Linked DNA regions of Homo sapiens. The protein of the gene in region 1 purifies or fractionates together with the protein of each later gene. This does not show direct contact. Each region holds a gene or a part of one and is shown in the gene's direction. Other genes may lie near its edges.

Region 1 (3,500 bases):
GTAAGACCCTGTAACACTCTCTAGCTGCACCGTATGATGTTCAGCAGCATCCGTGGCCTCTACCCACCAGTAGACAAGATGAGTAGACACAAACTCCACTGTCCATCCTGAGCCTGTTGGCAGGGATCTGTGTGGCGTTTATCCCTGTCCCCTTTGTCTGAGAAGCCAGGACTCCCAGCTCATCCCTTGCCACATTTGGCCTGACCCATCCCCTTGTGAGACCTCACCTCCCCTTCTCCTCACCTCCTGCACATCCCTCCACTGAGCCTTGTGGGACTCAGGGCTCAGCAGACCCGCCAGGTCCTGAGTGTTCCCTGCTCGGACTGAGCTCCAGGGGACTGCAGCCCTCTGAGTGCTTGTCATCCTCTTCCCTGCCTCTGTCTTGAGCCCAGGCCCACTGGGACAGGGTCCTCACCCCTCAGATTGTGCCTCTGCCAGCCTCAATCCCTCTCTAGAGACCTTGCCTTTGGGTCCCAGGCCTTGTCTTTTTGCTACTTCTGCAGACCTTCCCTCTCTTCTCAACACTCTTCCTGCCCTCAGTCTTGGCCATGGCAGCCTCCTTGTTGATTGTCCTGTGCCCCCCCAACCCATCCCACAGCCATCCGTGACTGTGACGACAGTGACTTTACCATACCCACCATCTCCATCTCCAGCACACCACTCCCTGGCCGCCTCCTGCCGTCCCTTCAATTCCGTCTGGTGTCCTGATTCCAGCAGTTTTCCAGTCCTTCAAGACCTGCAAGCCATCGACCCTGCTGCCTTTTCACTGCCCTGACTCATCCTCATTTCCCTCCATGCCCACCATTGTGGTCCCCCCTTACACACACCCTCAGCACTCTTGCCCCTGTTTTGTTCATTGTATCCACTTAGTGAAATCCATCGGTGTTCTGCACCTGCAGCCAAGCAGCTGCACGTGGCTGCAGAGAACCAGGTAAGCTGGCTGCTGGTGTCACGTGACATTCATGACCAGCGACTTCAGTGGGCGCTCTGCCACACAGTCACACCGTGTCTCCTTAGCCCAGGGGCCAGCAAACTGTGGCTGAGGGCCAAACCTAGCTCATCTGTTTCTGTATGGTGCACAGCTGAGAACAGTTTTATATTTTAACCCGTTTTTTAAAAGAGAAACGCACCACTCACACAGCCCTCTCCACGCCATCTGCCTGCACCAGTGCCCCCTTCTCTGCCTTCACTTCTGTGACTGCTAAACTGTCAACCCTCCAGCCAAAGCCCCACTTCGATCTGGCACCAGATCCCACCTCATGCCATCTTCTCAAGGGCAATACAAGCAATCCTGCCTTGACCTCTACCCCGGCAGCCACTGCCCGCTTGTCTGTTCCCCTTTGTGGCAGAGCCCTTGGGGACATCTGCGCTTGCTGTCTCCTGCACCTTCCCCCCCACTCTGTTACCCCTTCCACCAAAACCTCTCCAACCTCGGTTACCAGGGCCCTCCGTGGTCCTGAATGGTCTGTCTTCTTACTTGGCCTTGTCCCCTCTACTCTGCCACGTAGGCCCGTCATCTCCTGCCAGCCCCTCTCCTCCTGCCCTGATCCCCCAGTCTTGCCTCAGCCCAGCAGAGTAATCCCTTTTAGACCCAAGTCCTGGCTTTCCATCTGACCCGCACCGTCAGCTCACCACCTCCACTTTTCTCTCACTCTGCCCAGCTGCAGAGTGCTGTTCCCTGGTGCTGTTCCCTCCGCCCTGTGCCAGGGCCTTCGCAGTGCCCTCTACTGGGAATCCTCCTCAGGCAGGTCCCACCTGCAGGCCTTTCGTGTCATCGGCACTGCAGGCCCTCCCCACCCAGGACTCCAGGCCTACTTTCCTGCTTTGGGTCTTCCGTGTTAGACAGTGTCACATAATATATATGTTTCCTATTTATAGATTCATCGTATGTCAGGTCTCCTCCATTAGAATGTCAATTTCAAAAGTATAAAAATTTTTACCTGTTTAATCATTTTAGGAACCTAGAGTATTGCCTAGTACAGAGTAGGAATTCAATAACTATTTGCTGAATGTATGCTGTTTCAAAATTTAAAACGTGTGTGTGTGTGTGTGTGTGTGTGTGTGTGTGTGTGTGTGAAATAATGTATTTCTGATAGCATTTAAATTCCTTTTTAGGTCTCCCAGGCCTCCCTAGGAATTTTCTGTTTATTCTTTCTATCCACATTTTAAAACGTCTGCTGTGTACTTTGGTAGCTGTAAACAATATATAATACGGTTTTTTGTGTTCTGAAAAATTACATAGATGTCATTATATTTATCACTCATTATTCTGTATTTCAGACTTATCCATGTTGATACATGTAGATCAAGTTCATTCCTTTTAACAGATGCTTAATATTCCAGAAGCAACTATATTGTAACTTATTTTCCATTCCTCCACTGATTGGCACTTAAGCTTTTTCTGATTGTTCACTCTCACAAGCAATACTGTAGTGAGCGTTCTTGCGCCTGTTTTTTTGTGGCCCTGTGGGGATGCTGCTCCAGGGAGTAGACCCAGCGGTGGCCTCACCACGTCGTAGGCTTGATTTCATCTCTTCCGTTACTGTATGGCCCTCCCCAGGGGTACCCAGTGCCAGCGGGTGCTCCTAGAACTTGCTTCCTAACGTCTGCCCAGTTTCCATAATTACATTTTTGCCGACCTGATGGGGGTGAGATGGCCTCTCGTTTCAACTTGTATTTTCCCCCTTAAGTTGCACGCCCTTTTTATACGATTATTTGGCTGCTTCTCCAGTGAGTTGTCTTCTGTTTTTCTATTGAGATATTCTTCATTTTCTTCTTGATTCAGGGCTTCTTTGTATGTGTTCTAGATACAAATCCTTTGTCTATTATTTGTGTTACAAACATTTTCTCCGTGTCGGTGGCAGGTCTTTAACGTTGTAGTTCTTGTATGGAAGTTTTCACTGTTGAAAGAGTCAAACATGTCAGTCTTTTCCTTTATGATCTGTGCTTTTTCTGTAGTGAGATATCCTTGCTTACCTCACTCAAGGTCAGAAAGATACTCTTCTCTATTTTTTTTATAAATTTTTAAAAGTTTTGCTTTTCAAATTTAAGTCTTTAATTTATCTAGAATTAAAATTTGTGTAGCTTGCAAGGGAGGGTTTCAGTTTTTTCTCCCACAACGATGGTCTCATTTTCCAACAAAGTTTGCTGAATGTGTTAGCTTTTCTCCACTGATTTGTGATGCGATTCTGTCCTGAGCTGGTTTCTGCATGTGCACAAGTCTGTTTCTGGGTGCTTGCTTCTGTGTCATTGGTCTCTTTGTCAGTCTCTGCACCAACAGCTTGCTCTTTTAGCTTCATAATAAGCCTTGATATCTAGTAGACTAATCCTTCTCTGCTTGTTCTTCAAAAAACTGTCTTGGCTATTCTTGGATATTTGTTCTTTTATATGAATTTTGGGATCTGTATGTCAAGTTCCTAAGAAAATCCTGTTGGAAATTTGATTGGAATTGCATTGACTTTACAGTCTAATTTCTGGAGAATTGCTCTCATGACAACATT
Region 2 (3,500 bases), about 150 Mb from region 1:
GCTGCTGCATTTTCTGTGTTGGGCAGTCAGTTGAAGGATGGCCTCTTGACCCTCAGTTACTCGTGTTATAATGAAACATTCTCTGAGGTTCTTTCTTTCTTTCTTTTTTTTGAGTCGGAGTCTCGCTCTGTCGCCCAGGCTGGAGTGCAGTGTCGCAATCTCGGCTCACTGAAAGCTCCGCCTCCCAGGTTCACACTATTCTCCCGCCTCAGCCTCCCTAGTAGCTGGGACTACTGGCGCCCGCTACCACGCCCGGCTAATTTTTTGTATTTTTAGTAGAGACGGGGTTTCACCATGTTAGCCAGAATGGTCTCGATCTCCTGACCTTGTGATCCACCCGCCTCGGCCTCCCAAAGTGCTGGGATTACAGGCCTGAGCCACCGCGCCCGGCCTCTCTGAGCTTCTTTCTAATCTTGCCTGTAATACACAATATTAGACTACTTTTAAGTTTTTTTTGTTTGTTTGTTTGTTTGAGACAGTCTCACTCTTGCCCAGGCTGGAGTGCAGTGGTGTGATCTCAGCTCACTGCAACCTCCGCCTCCCGGGTTCAAGCAATTCTCCTGCCCCACCCTCCCAAGTAGCCGGGATTACAGGCGCACACTACCACGCCTGGCTTGCTTGCTTGCTTATTTATTTATTTATTTATTTATTGAGACAGAGTCTTGCTCTGTCACCCAGGCTGGAGTGCAGTGGCACGATCTTGGCTCACTGCAACCTCCGCCTCCCAGGCTCAAGCAATTCTCCTGCCTTAGCCTCCTGAGTAGCTGGGATTATAAGCATGTGCCACCATGCCCGGCTAATTTTTGTATATTTAGCAGAGACAGGGTTTCACCATGTTGGCCGGGCTGGTCTCGAACTCCTGACCTCAAGTGATCTGCCCACCTTGGCCTCCCAAAGTGCTGGGATTACAGGTGTGAACCATTGCGCCCAGCCAAGATTTTTTTTTAAACAGCTTTATTGAGATAATTGATATACAGTAAATCTGCATAGTTTTAAAGCGTACAATTTAATACATTTTGATGTGTACATATCACGAAACCATCGCCACAGTCAAAATAATGGACGTTTTGATTAACTTTTCTATAATTATGATAATGAAACTAGAGACTTCGGATCTTCTGGTTAGGATTTCCCTGTCACTTAGGAGCTCCCTGGCTGTGGATCTGTCCCCCGTGTGACTGCCTTAGGCTCGAGGCAGGAAGAGCAGCACAGATACTCCTGGCACCGAGGGCTTGTCCGTGGAGAGGGGTGGGGCGGACAGCGCATACCTGCCTAGCCTTACAGTGTGGGTATGTGCCAACGGCCCTCTCTCACTCAGGTATATTTTCCTGGAGTACGCGTCCCCTGCCCACGCTGTGGATGCTGTGAAGAACGCCGACGGCTACAAGCTTGACAAGCAGCACACATTCCGGGTCAACCTCTTTACGGATTTTGACAAGTGAGTTCAGACTTGGCCACAAGGAAGTGGACGTTGACGTGCAAGTGACTGGCTGTGTGCGGGTGGCTTGGTGCTTCTCGGTGCTGGTGTCTGTCAGATTGTTCACATCCTTTCTGGTCAGGCTGCCGCAGAGCCATTTCACAGCCCTGCCCCACACTTCTGGCCTACAGCACCCCTCCCTGTTATGCCAGTCACAGCCCTGGGGGCGGGCAGGCAGGAGCACAGCAGGGCCATGCTGGAGCCCCCACGAGTTGCTCTTTCTAGTCGTCAGGGCGTGGGGCTCAGCAGTCTCCTTTCTTCTCCAGGTATATGACGATCAGTGACGAGTGGGATATTCCAGAGAAACAGCCTTTCAAAGACCTGGTGAGTGGCCTGAAACCTACATCTCAGTGGTTTAAAGAAATGCTGCTGGGTGTGGTGGGTCACACCTGCAATCCCAGCACTTAGGGAGGCTGAGGTGGGAGGATCGCTTAAGCCCAGGAATTCAAGACCAGCCTGGGCAACAAAGTGAGACCCCCGCCTCTACAAAAAGTAAATAAATACATACATTAGCTGGGCCTGGCATGCACCTGTATTCCCAGCTACCTGGGAGGCTGAGGGGGGAGGATCACTTGAGCCTGGGAGGTTGAGCCTGGGAGGTTGAGGCTGCCGTGAGCTATGATTGTGCCACTGGACTCCAGCCTGGGCAACAGCGTGACTCTGTCTCAAAAAAAAAAGAAATGCTAGACGGTGTCTTGACTTGAGGTTAGGGTGTGACTTGGGAGTTAAGATGTGGACTGAACTTGTCATATCTTTAAGAGCAATAGTTGTGAATGAGTTTTTTATTAAAATTAATGAAATGTTATATTCCTTGTCTTTGTTTTTAAGGGGAACTTACGTTACTGGCTTGAAGAGGCAGAATGCAGAGATCAGTACAGTGTGATTTTTGAGAGTGGAGACCGCACTTCCATATTCTGGAATGACGTAAAAGACCCTGTCTCAATTGAAGAAAGAGCGGTGTGTATTTGCTGCTGCTGGGGGCGGGGACTCACCTCTCCTGTATTTCCTTAACAAAGTGGAACTTTGTTTCTATCAGAAAACTGGAAGAGCAGGTGACGTTATATTTTCTTTGAGATTACTTTCTGAAAACAACTTCTTTTATTCCTCTTCCAGCTTTGAAGTAAATCCTGAGAAGTGAACAGGCTTTGTGTATTTCACTTAAGAGTTTGCAGAATAGGCCGGGCGCGGTGGCTCACGCCTGTAATCCCAGCACTTTGGGAGGCCAAGGTGGGTGGATCACGAGGTCAGGAGATTGAGACCATCCTGGCTAACACGGTGAAACCCCGTCTCTACTAAAAATACAAAAAAATTAGCTGGGCATGGTGGCAGGCACCTGTAGTCCCCGCTACTCGGGAGGCTGAGGCAGGAGAATGGCATGAACCTGGGAGGTGGAGCTTGCAGTGAGCTGAGATTGCGCCACTGCACTCCAGCCTGGGAGACAGCGAGACTCCGTCTCAAAAAAAAAAAAAGTTTGTAGAACAGATTCATTGTAGGATAAATTCATTGTAGGAGGGGTCTTTGTGTTTGCCATTTTGTTGTATTAACGTTGGCACTGCCTTTTTCTGCAGAGATGGACAGAGACGTATGTGCGTTGGTCTCCTAAGGGCACCTACCTGGCTACCTTTCATCAAAGAGGCATTGCTCTATGGGGGGGAGAGAAATTCAAGCAAATTCAGAGATTCAGCCACCAAGGGGTTCAGCTTATTGACTTCTCACCTTGTGAAAGGTAAGCTGCTAGAAAAACACAGGGGAGTCTATGCATTTCACCCCATGCCAGCCTTCTACAGGTGATCTTTCATTTTGTAGCATTTCAAACTTAGTAGAAAAATACGGGAGTATGCAGAACGCTAATAAGCTTTTTACTGAGATCTTCTCACATTTGGTTGCATTTACGTCATCATCTCCTATACAGATATTTTTTCCTGAGCCATTTGGGAGTGAGTTGAAATAACATGTCCCTTTAGCCCTGAATGTGTATTCCTAGAAATAGGATTTTGTTAGTGTGACCATAGTGTGGGTACTG
Region 3 (3,500 bases), 250 kb from region 1:
TATGAGAAGATGTGATGATGCATGGAAATGGTTAAATCTAAACAAATAGTGACTTAATAAAACGTAACAATTTCTTGTTGTGTTAAAAACAATTAAAATACATGATGGCATTGATGTAAATATGAGGAAGAGATGATCAGAACTAAAGTGTTTAAAGGGCTTTGTTAAAGGGCCTTCTATGTATGTTTCCCATAATTTCTAGGATACTTGCTAAACAACTCGAAATTGGTCGTATAACTTACAGATCAGAAAGGGGGATAATGGAATAAGAAAAAATTAATGTAAAAGAAGACAAGAAAGTAGAGAAGAAAGATGGGATAAATAGCACAAAAAAGGTAAAAATAAATCAAAGCTAATGAACAATTACAATAAATGTAAATGAATGAAATGTTCAAGTTAAAAGGCATAGATTGTCAGGATGGGGGAAAAATCCAACTAGATGGTTTAAAAGAGTTACAACCGGCTGGGCGTGGTGGCTCACGCCTGTAATCCCAGCACTTTGGGAGGCAAAGTTGGGTGGATCATGAGGTCAGGAAATTGAGACCATCCTGGCTAACACAGTGAAATTCCGTCTCTACTAGAAATACAAAAAATTAGCCAGATGTGATGGTGGGTGCCTGTAGTCCCAGCTTCTTGGGAGGCTGAGGCAGGAGACTGGCGTGAACCCAGGAGGCGGAGGTTGCTGAGGCAGGAAAATCACTTGAACCTGGGAGGCAAAGGTTGCAGTGAGCCAAGATTGCGCCACTGCACTCCAGCCTGGGTGACAGAGTGAGACTCCGTCTCAAAAAAAAAAAAAAAAAAAAAAAAAAGAGAGAGAGAGAGAGATACAACTAAAAGATAAGGATATAGAAACAGTTGAATATAAAAGGTCATGAAAAAATATGCCAAGCAAATACTAATGAAAATAAAGTTGACAAATATATTTAGTATCTTTAGAGATAGAAGGCTCCTACTACTTTTGTAATGGTAAAAGACTCAATTTACCAGCTAGATACAAAATTTCTAAACCTGTATGCACCTAATTACATAGCCTAAAAATATATAAAACAAAACTGACAGAATTGCGAGAAAGATTCACTGTTATAATAGGAGATTTTAATACAACCTTAGTATTTTATCAAATAGAAAAGACTTATAAGGGTGTAGTGCATCCAGTAGAACTTCCCAAGATGATAGAAATGTTCTGCTCTGCACTGTTTAATACAGTGGCCACTAGGCACATGTGGCTTTTGAGCACTTGAAATGTTAGCTAGTATGATTGAGGAACTGAGTTTTAAATTTTATTTATTTATTTTGAGACAGACTCTCACTCTGTCACCCAGGCTGGAGTAGAGTGGTGCAATCTTGGCTCACTGCAACCTTGCAACCTCTGCCTCCCAGTTTCAAGTGATTCTTCTGCCTCAGCCTCCTGAGTATCTGGGATTACAGTCATGTGCCACCACACCCGGCTAATTTTGTATTTTTAGTAGAGACAGGGTTTCATCATGTTGGTCAGGCTGGTCTTGAACTCCTGACCTCAAGTGATCCGGCTGTCTTGGCCTCCCAAAGGGTTGGGGTTACAGGCACGAGCCACTGTGCCCGGCTAATTTTATTTAACCAGCCACATGTGACTAGTGGATATTATATTGGAAGCACAGGTACAGAAATGATTATTTTTATTTTTATTTTTATTTTTTTTCTGAGACAGAGTCTCTCTCTGTTGCCCAGACTGGAGTGCAGTGGTGCGATCTCGGCTCACTGCAAGCTCCGCCTCCCGGGTTCATGCCATTCTCCTGCCTCAGCCTCCCCAGTGGCTGGGACTGCAGGAGCCCGTCACCACGCCCGGCTAATTCTTTTGTATTTTTAGTAGAGATGGGGTTTCACCATGTTAGCCAGGATGGTCGCGATCTCCTGACCTCATGATCCGCCCACCTTGGCCTCCCAAAGGGCTGGAATTATGGGCGTGAGCCACTGCACCTGGCCAGAAATGATTTTTTTAATCCATATATCTATCAGTATATAATATCAAAGTGTAGAGACAAAATGAAAACAAAAGAGAGGAGGCAAAAATAAAAACCTATTGGGAATGAAAATGTGTGCATTCCCATGTCTATTGGTTGATGCTGGTGTGTAGACTGAGATTGTAGGTAAGGCCGTTGAACAGAACACTTCATGCACCCTCTTCATGTGGCTTGGGATTTCTCAAGGGATTCTAGCACCTGGCTGCCTGTGATTTGCCCCACTTGACAGAGAGTGGAGCAGAGACGAACCATCCATGTGCCACCCTCCTTTAACTGCAGATTCACATGCAAAGTAGATGATGATGTCTTAAGCCACTAAATTTGGGGATTATTTGTCATACAGGAGTTGATGGTTGGAATAGATACCTAGGGAAAATGTTAAAACATTGAAAGATATTAAAAATGGAGTCTCAAAAGGCTGGGCATGGTGGCTCATGCCTATAATCCTAGCACTTTGGGAGGCTGAGGCAGGTGGATCATTTGAGGTCAGGAGTTTGAGACCCGCCTGGGCAACATGGTGAAACCCTGTCCCTACTAAAAATACAGAAAAATTAACCAGGAGTGGTGGCACACACCTGTAATCCCAGCTACTTGGGAGGCTGAGGCAGGAGAATCACTTGAACCTGAGACAGAGGTTGCAGTAAGCTGAGATCATGCCACTGCACTCCAGCCTGCAGCCTGGGCGACAGAGCGAGAGACTCCATCTCAGAAAAAAAAAAAAAAAAAGGATTTGCATACTATGTTTATGAATTGAAATTCATCCTAAATGTGTCACTTTTCTGTTGGGTGGGGTGACTCATGCCTGTAATACCAGGACGTATAATCGTGCCACTGCCCTCCAGCCTGGGTGACAGAGTGAGACCGTGTCTTTATTTATTTGAGACAGAATCTCTCTCTGTCACTGGAGGGAAGTGGTGTGATCATGGCTTCCTGCAGCCTCAATCCCCTGGGCTCAAGTGATCTTCCCACCTCAGCTTCCTGAGTGGCTGGAACTATAGGCACCTGTCATCATGCCTGGCTAATTTTATTGTCTTTTTGTAGAGATGGGATTTCACCATCTTGCCCTGGCTGTTCTTGAACTCCTGGGCTCAAGCTGTCCTCCCGCCTCAAGCCTCCCGAAGTGCTGGGATTACAGACTCGAGCCACTGTGCCCAGCCATAGATTCCCCAAGTGGGATTGCTAGGTAAAAGGGTTTTTAATGACTTGAAATTTTTCTTCCCCTAAGAGTGTGTAGTATTTTTCATTCCTTCCAGGAGTGTTATGAGAGTCAGTTTACCACATTATAGTCAGCTCTGAATGTTATTCTTTGTGTCTGTTTCATGTTTGTCAGTCTGATGGGTGAACGTGCTTTCACTTAGTTATATTTGGATTCCTGATTGTAAGGTGGTTGTGTTTTCATTTGTTTATTGACTGCCTGCATTTCCGCTTCCATGAATGATTTACAATCTGCAGTTTTATTTTGGGGTTCTTGACCTTTTTCCACTTCATATTCTGTTTACA
Region 4 (3,002 bases), on another chromosome or scaffold:
CAGTCCAGTTGGTGAATGGAATAGGTCGTGCATAGTACAAGTCAATAGGCACAAGCACATGAACAAATCAGACAGTAGGGGTCATGGTATATAAGAGAAGGGTGATCCAGAAATACCAAAAAGTATCTATGCAGAGTGTGAGTCAACACTGTGTACATAAAACTAAGTTTTTAGGCCCAGTTAATTAACATTGCTGTTTTTACTTTTTCATTAGCATGTTGGCAGATAAATTGAACATGACTCCAGAAGAAGCTGAAAGGTGGATTGTAAATTTGATTAGAAATGCAAGACTGGATGCCAAGATTGATTCTAAATTAGTGAGTATTATGTTAGCTATGCTACATACTATCAGTTCCTGATTATACTTTTGGGAATTCTTAACTAGGACATTTTATTACCTCCTTTAATAATTTATTTTGTTTTAATGTAAAACAGTTCTTTGAAGGCAACAGAAGCCTCCTATTTTTTTTCTTCCTTGGTAAATATTGTCATCTCTATACAGTGCATTAAAATATGCGCAAAGGTATGTCATGCTTTTTACTTACCTGAGAAACTCAGTCATTAACATTATAGGATCAATTTCCCTGTGTTTCCTTTTAGGGTCATGTGGTTATGGGTAACAATGCAGTCTCACCCTATCAGCAAGTGATTGAAAAGACCAAAAGCCTTTCCTTTAGAAGCCAGATGTTGGCCATGAATATTGAGAAGAAACTTAATCAGAATAGCAGGTCAGAGGTAAGAACCACACATCTTCTATTCTGTCTGGGGTTTAGCAACCATGTAATTGTTACATGAAGTTTCAAAGTGTATTGATGAGTTGTAGCTGATTTTGTTTTTCTCTTTAAAGATATGAACATTTTTAAGAAATTACTAAACAGAAAATTTTTTCTTAGATGTATTATATGCATTAAACATAGAAACTGAAAAAGAAATTGTGTTCCTAGTTTATTATAACTATTTTTCTTTTGCTTTGACTCTTCCTGTGTGACTTCATTAACTCATTTCCTCAGGGTTTTCAACACATCATTTTGATACTGGCAGATGATAACTTACATGTGTAGCCCTCTTTCAAGTGTTCGAAATGTGTATTCTTTCTAAATCTAAAGAAATAATTCTGTAAAAATGTTGATCTTATTATATGTATTAGTGCTGATCTTATACAAATTTCATTATCTTTCATCTGATATTCATATCAAAAATTAATCTCCCATTTTGATAGAGATCCTGCATGTTAGAGATTGAAGAAACTTGAATGGCCTTATAATTTTGGAATCCTAAACTGTGTTGTTTAGACATTATGATTATGTGTAACTGGAGGGTAGGAAGTCATTAGGAAGCAGTTGTGGGATATGCAGAGACCCCATTTGATTGAAATTTTAGGAACAAATTTGTGTCCGCAGAATAATCCTTTAGTTCAAATGAGAAGGATGCATTAGAATTCAAGTTGCATATTTTAGCCAAGTTTAGAATAACTGAGCCTAGAAAGTAACTTTCATATGATGTTTTTTTCTGTATGCTTTAGGATTAATTTGTATCATTTATTGTTCCAGTATTAATGATACTGTTATTGCTATATATTTTAATTGGCCAAAAGCTATACCAGATAATAATTTTGGTGTTTGTTTTGTCCTGAGTGGGACATCTGACATCTAGTAATTGCAGGAGTTAAGATCTTAGAATGGTTTGGCAAGAGACTATAGTGCTGAAGTAAATGCTGTGTTACTTTCTTCTATGTTAGTTTTTTTCCGAAAGTATTTTCTTTTCACGGTGTTGATTTCTTTTTGCATATTTTAGGCTCCTAACTGGGCAACTCAAGATTCTGGCTTCTACTGAAGAACCATAAAGAAAAGATGAAAAAAAAAACTATCAAAGAAAGATGAAATAATAAAACTATTATATAAAGGGTGACTTACATTTTGGAAACAACATATTACGTATAAATTTTGAAGAATTGGAATAAAATTGATTCATTTTATCTTGCTGTCAGTTTTCTTGCATGTGCAAGTTTGTGTTTTTTTAACTTTCTTTTTTGGAATAATTATATTCAGAGGAATTTGCAAAAATAGTACAGAGAAGTCCCTGTAGGCTGAACCCTGTTTCCCTCAATTTTTTCACTTTGTCTTACTATGGTACAGTATCAAAACCAGGATGTTGACATTGGTACAATGTGTGTACAAATAGCTCCCTACCATTTTATCACGTGTAGATTTGTGTAACCATCACTGCAGCCAAGATAGAGAACTATCATCATGATCTCCCTCATGCTACCTTTTTGTAGCCATACCTACTCCCAACCAACTCTAACCCTAGGAACCACTAATCTGTTCCTCATCGCTATATTTTGTCATTATGAGAATGTTATATAAATGGAATTACATAATACACAACCTTTGAGATTAGCTTTTTTCATTCATCACAATGCTCTTGAGAGCCATCCAAGTTGAGAGATAGATATATATATATATATGATCAGTAGTTAATTCCTTTTTTATTGCCAAATAGTATTCCATGGTATTGATGTGCCACGTGGTTTAACTGGTATTGATGTGCCATGTGGTTTAACCATGTACCTATTGAAGGATATTTTAGTTGTTTCCAGTTTGGTACTATTACAAATAAAACTGTTGTTCCTTAATTTCTTAAAAGTGGCTCCTCAGTCACTCACTGTATAGTTACGGAGACTAGGCATATAAGTTGAATTTTATAAGTGTCAAATGTTAAATACAGACATACTGTTTACTGGATACTGGAGGTATTTAAGAGCTACAGAGCCCTCACTGGGTCCCTTTTTTACATAGAAGTGGCTTGATTTTTCACTTTGGTTGAACTGACAGCCAGTCAGATAACAGAAACTTGTTGCTGCTCTCAAGGAGGAGGTTCAAAGATAAAAAGGTACATACTGTTCTTTTATTTGACATCTGATCAGGCCACCTTCCATACTCAGTTTAGAGACTACGGTAGTTAGGTTGCATCTGCCATTCAAAGAGCATGGAGACCTCCCA

The links.
Region 2: the proteins of ZNF746 (region 1) and EIF3B purify together in Homo sapiens (affinity purification with mass spectrometry; 2 studies listed by BioGRID and IntAct, with this or other methods). This does not show direct contact.
Region 3: the proteins of ZNF746 (region 1) and ZNF212 purify together in Homo sapiens (affinity purification with mass spectrometry; 3 studies listed by BioGRID and IntAct, with this or other methods). This does not show direct contact.
Region 4: the proteins of ZNF746 (region 1) and EIF3E purify together in Homo sapiens (affinity purification with mass spectrometry; 2 studies listed by BioGRID and IntAct, with this or other methods). This does not show direct contact.

What each region holds. Positions count from the first base shown.
Region 1 is NC_000007.14:149,487,810-149,491,309, reverse strand, and holds part of ZNF746 (zinc finger protein 746), read left to right. Parts: intron 1-3,500.
Region 2 is NC_000007.14:2,361,327-2,364,826, forward strand, and holds part of EIF3B (eukaryotic translation initiation factor 3 subunit B), read left to right. Parts: intron 1-1,318; coding exon 1,319-1,438; intron 1,439-1,743; coding exon 1,744-1,801; intron 1,802-2,305; coding exon 2,306-2,434; intron 2,435-3,045; coding exon 3,046-3,203; intron 3,204-3,500.
Region 3 is NC_000007.14:149,242,651-149,246,150, forward strand, and holds part of ZNF212 (zinc finger protein 212), read left to right. Parts: intron 1-3,500.
Region 4 is NC_000008.11:108,200,716-108,203,717, reverse strand, and holds the end of EIF3E (eukaryotic translation initiation factor 3 subunit E), read left to right. Parts: intron 1-214; coding exon 215-317; intron 318-600; coding exon 601-735; intron 736-1,794; coding exon 1,795-1,833; 3' UTR 1,834-2,502; downstream 2,503-3,002. UniProt on the Homo sapiens protein: Component of the eukaryotic translation initiation factor 3 (eIF-3) complex, which is required for several steps in the initiation of protein synthesis.